Linked DNA regions of Homo sapiens: region 2 is linked to region 1. The links come from fine-mapping of genetic effects on gene expression. A gene starts in region 1. The other region holds a variant in brackets. All regions are shown on one strand. Distances are from middle to middle.

Region 1 (2,500 bases):
TACAAAAATTAGCTGGGTGTGGTGGCGTGCCCCTGTAATCCCAGCTACTCGGGAGGCTGAGGCAGGAGAATCACTTGAACCTGGGAGGCGGAGATTGCAGTAAGCCCAGGTCGCACCACTGCACTCCAGCCTGGAGACAGAGTGAGACTCCGTCTCAAAAGAAAAAAAAAAAAAAAACAGGAAGCAGTTTCAGCACCTACCTCACAATGTGCACACAGTTAAAGCACCTACCTCACAGGGTGCACACAGTTAAAGCACCTACCTCACAGGGTGCACCTAAGGATCACAGGCATGCAAGCCCTAGATCAGCCTGCCCAATGGCAATATAATGCAGGCCACAGGTGACATTTAAAATTCTGTAGAACCCACACTAAAAAATAAACAAATAAAACTTTTATCCCAATATATGGAAAAAGTTTATCACTTCAACATGTAACAATTTTTTGAACATTATTTGGTAAAGAATGCATATATCTCGATTCCGACTAGCCATACTTTAAGTGCTCAGGAGCCATGTGGGGCTGGTGGCCCCAAACTGAACAGCACAGCCCAGGCAGCAGGGGCGCATAGTAGGTTCTGCTCACGCCCATGGTCTGAAAGAAACACGGTTGCAGTTGCTGTGAGCACACCTCACCTGGAGCAAACCGGCCTATCAGGGGGTCCACTGAAGAGATGTCTACATTTGGGGATAAATTAAGAAGATGTTCTTTAAGCCAGCCACTTATTTAATTCCCACCGATATTTTAATTCCTAGCTTCAAGCTGTGGTGCGCGGTTCCGACCTATGCAAATGAACAGCTTACAAACAGAGGGCCACCATCTATTTCTCATTATCTGGGGATCCCGGTTGGGGTGGGGGGCGGAAGTGGGTGTTTGTTATTTCCCCAAATGCGGAGGCCCCTGCACCACTAACGCGAGGAAACGCAGGCGAGTGGGAAGGTACTTTAAAAAGGGGAGGGAGGTGCTCAGAGGGAAGCTAAGCTCTCCGGGAAACAATTACGGCCACGTTACGGTCTGTGGGTGCCAGAAGGAGCAACAATGGAGGCAGTCGAATTCCGAGAGCTCAGAGAGTCTGCCAAACTTAGCCGGCCTCGGCGCGCGGGTTCCCGGGGGCCCCAAAAACTCCGGGCAACTGCGGCCCAACGCCAAGGTCCAGTCCAGGCGCTGGGCCGCAAACGCCTCTCCGGCCTCCGCGCGCGCGCCCGCTGTCTCCCTGCTCCTGAGTGGCTGGGGGGCCGGGATTAACCTTTCACCGCCAGGCCCTGTCCAATCACAGGCTCGCTCTCATGCCGCCACGGGGCGAGCGGAGCGTGGGGGCGCGGAGGGGCGGTGCGGGAGCCAGTGGGATTCTCCAAGCGGCTGTGCGCCGTTGCCGCGGGCCGTGCGCTGGCTGCCGGCCAGCCGGGCGCTGCGCAGTCTCCGCAGGCGCCGGCGGGAGGGGTCGAGGCGGAGGCGCGGCGCAGGCTGCTGCAGGCCCAGGTGAATGGAGTAACCTGACAGCGGGGACGAGGCGACGGCGAGCGCGAGGAAATGGCGGCGGGGGCGGCGGCGCCGGGCGGCTCCGGGAGGCCTGGGCTGTGACGCGCGCGCCGGAGCGGGGTCCGATGGTTCTCGAAGGCCCGCGGCGCCCCGTGCTGCAGGTGAGGCGGGCTCCCGCGGAGCAGCTTTGTGTCCGGGGCGGGGAGCGGGTCGCCTGGCCGCGCTCCCGCCTCCGCGCGGAGGCCCGCGTGCCGGCCATGGCCCCGAGCCGCGCGTCCGGGCCTGGCGGGCGCTGACGAAGGGCGCGGCCTCGCCTGCCTCGTCGTCCCGCACAGCGCGGCCTGTGGACCCGGCGTCTGCCCGCCTCGGCTCTGCTCCTGGGCCCGGACCCCGGCGCCTCCCCGCGAGGCAGCCCTGGGAGACTTTCCGGGCCGCCGTGGCGTGGTGGGGGATGCCGGCGCCTGTCCACTCCCCGGCCTGGCGAGGCCTGGGGCTCTTGACAGGTCCCGTCACGCGCGCTAAGGTGGCGCGGGAGCAGCGGAGGTGGAGACGCGCGCCTGACCTGCCGGAGCACCCTGGGGCCCTCCTCTGATGGGGCCGCTGTGCCGCGCCCGGAGGGGACGAAGCTGGGCTCTCGGTCCCTCCCGGGAGGGTCCTGTGTGATTACTGTCAGGGGACCAGATTGGGGCCCTGGGGGGCGGGCAGGGGCCGAGGCCATTCTTTTGCCTCTCCCCTCAGATGTTTTTGTGCCAAAATGCCTAGACCCTGCGGAGGACCCTTTCTTCAGGGTTTTTGATTTTGGGGAAATCAGTGTATGTTTTAAGTTAGCACATCAGATTTCTGTAGATTGTCCAGAAAAGCTGAGTTGCCCTGATGGCTCTGCCTGGAGGTCAGAGCCAGCAAACCACTGAGTGTGTCCTTAGGAACCTGAAGATCCGCGGAAACGTGGAGATGAGTTGGAGGGTCCTATTTGTGTAGTGTTAACTCCGTGCTTTTGTGGAGAGAGTTGTGGTTAAAGGGAC
Region 2 (2,500 bases), 35 kb before region 1:
TGAGCTGATTTTACAGTTTTATGGCATCAGAGCAGACATGAAGAGGGAAAGCAAACATGCCAGGATGTCTATGAAAGTATTTCTTGCTGTCGGAGAACTGTTGGCCTGGCCTAATGTTGCTGAATTGCTGGAAACCTGCCCATTTAAAACATAGGAAACCAGAAAAACGTCTCAAATTCTTACAATTCTGAGACGTCCCCATTCCTGTTGAAGTCATAGAGTTGCTTTATTATGTTTTTATTTTTAAAAAATTTTATTTACTCGCCACAGATTTGAATTGGCTTGGAAGGATTTAGATTACTGGAATCGGAAGCCTCTGTCTGAATATTACCCAACACCCAAGAGTGTGGTCATTAGAACCCCATCCCTCTGGCTGCTAAAAAAGAAGCAAGACAGCTCCTTTCCCCTGCCATGAAATGGAAATACTAATTCAAGTTTTCCACCAGGCTGGATATGCTCATAGGAAAATAATCCTTTTTGCTCTTATGAGATAGAGGCGTTGAAAATAGAACCTGTAAAGTTGAGAAATGCAGTCGTGTTTTCAGTTGTCTACATTGAGCATTTATTACCTTTATAATAAAAAATATGGTTTAGGCTGCGCATGGTGGCTCACGCCTGTAATCCCAGCACTTTGGGAGGCCAAGGAGGGAGGACTGCTTGAGGCCAGGAGTTTGAGACTAGCCTGGGCAACACAGAGAGACCGTGTCTCTATAAAAAGTATATAGTTTAACTTGTTTCTGTGGACAGCTTTTTAAAGAAGACCATCATGTGGGTATTTATCATTCAGTATGTAGACTGTGGCAGATGTTTAATCCCACCCTGCCCCTCGCTCCTGCTATCAGGAGATAGTTCTGGGACAAGTGGTTTTAGCCTCTCGTAATCTCCATTACACCGCACGAAACCACCCTAAGAGGCTTACACTGCAGGCTTCTCTACATGCAGCTCCAAGCAGAGGCCCCAGCCCCAGGCAAAACCTTCTGGGCTTCCCTATGATCCGCCAGGCAAAACTGAAATGACATTTTAACACTACCACCTATAAAATAAAAGCAGGAAGGTAAATCTGACTGAAATCAAATCTAGTAATTATTTTAAAGGTAATATTCCAAAGCCAAAACAAAACTGTGGGGAATGGGAGAGGTCTTTGTTTCTTTCTGATAGATGATTTAAAATGATCTGCTATTAGGGACACTTCATCCCTTAGATGACCTATGGGGTCCCCTGCGTTACTAACAAACAGCAGCAAGCGATCAGTATCTAACTCCGTGTCACTCTCTGAGAGCACTGTGGCATCAAGAAAGGTGTCCCAGGAGACCTGGCCTAGGCGCCCTCTCTGTCGCCAAGTTAATTGCATGGCCTTGGGCAAGTCACTCCACCCCGAAAGCCTCAGTGTGTCCATCTGCAGAATGGGGCTGCCACCTCCTCTCACCTG[A/G]TGTTATGGAGATGAACGGAGTACGTGCAAAAGCTCGAGGGGCTGCCTGGATGGCCCGACGCACTGCCTTGGGCCAGTACACACAGTGTGGGGCCTACCTGGACATGGTGCTGGGGAGCCTTCGGGTCTTCAGGCGGGGAGTGGGGGCCGGGGAGAGACGGGTAGCACTGGGTGGGGTCCACTTTCCTGGGAACCTGCTTGGTAACTGCGTTTCCTCTGTGTTTCTTCTGTAGGAAGGCCAACAGCTCAGGAGAAGCCATGTCACTGGGGAGCCACAGCCCGCAGAGTGACTCCCTGACACAGCTTGTCCAGCAGCCGGATATGATGTATTTTATTCTCTTCCTGTGGCTCCTGGTGTACTGCTTGCTGCTCTTCCCACAACTGGATGTTAGCAGGCTCTGATACGTGTGTCTGGATAATAAAAAAGACAGGACCCTGACCAGGGGCGGGGTTACTTCATTTTATTTTGGGTTCTGGGTGGGGCACTTCTACAGACAGTTGAGGACCTCCGAGGAAACTTAGACCCCCTTTCTCGCTATTGTGGTTTTTTTTTTTTTTTCAGGTTTCCTTTTTTTTCTGGACAACCTGAGCATGCTTTTTTCTTTGGCTGTGTACTCAAAACTCAGGCATGCAGCTGGATCCGTAGGTGGGGTTTTGTCCTTGTGTGCCTTGCTGGGTTGGATAGGGAGCATTGTTAGTGATCATTAGCCCGCCTGGATCTTAGCACACCCCACATTGCAGGTTCACACGCTGGATGAACTTGAGTTTCTTACCTCTCAGATGAAGGGCTGCTTAATGAGAAAGAGGGTGGGCACCCCAGGCCAAGCCCCAGCTGGGGAGAGAGCTGCCACGTTTTCCTCCAAGCGTGGGTGTTTGAGAGAAGGTGCTGGGGTCCATGCACCTGTCGCAGTCCGGTAACTGGTTGCATTCACTAGGGGAAATCCGAGCAGCCAGCTCTGTGTAAGCACATCCAGGAATGGCAGAATCCAGGGAGGAAGGTGAAAGCTGTGTTGAGAGCCACTGTGTGCTCTTTTTCACCCTGTTTTTTTTGTTGTTTTTTTGTTTTGTTTT

Direction of the effects. Alleles are on the strand shown, and positions count from the first base shown. SD is a standard deviation of normalised expression in the study named.
For the expression in fibroblasts of the gene that starts at base 1,340 in region 1, A is the low allele of the variant in region 2 and G is the other (moderate effect, 0.69 SD a copy in GTEx).

What was found.
Region 2: its variant is fine-mapped to the expression of DICER1 in fibroblasts (GTEx, PIP above 0.99). The same link has a PIP of 0.9 or more in breast.

Annotation. Positions count from the first base shown.
Region 1 is chr14:95,156,369-95,158,868 of GRCh38, reverse strand. It overlaps DICER1 (dicer 1, ribonuclease III), which reads left to right and starts at 1,340. Exons shown (of 27, transcript NM_177438.3): 1 at 1,340-1,639. It overlaps DICER1-AS1 (DICER1 antisense RNA 1), which reads right to left and starts at 1,181. Exons shown (of 4, transcript NR_015415.1): 1 at 1,011-1,181; 2 at 635-676. RefSeq lists enhancers at 870-939, 980-1,079 and silencers at 1,170-1,629, 1,690-2,049.
Region 2 is chr14:95,190,895-95,193,394 of GRCh38, reverse strand. CLMN (calmin) reads left to right here. Exons shown (of 13, transcript NM_024734.4): 13 at 1,663-2,500. The coding sequence ends at 1,831. Among named protein-coding and RNA genes, the nearest start is that of DICER1-AS1, 34 kb to the right of the region's middle. The variant A/G (reference allele first, on the strand shown) is at 1,430.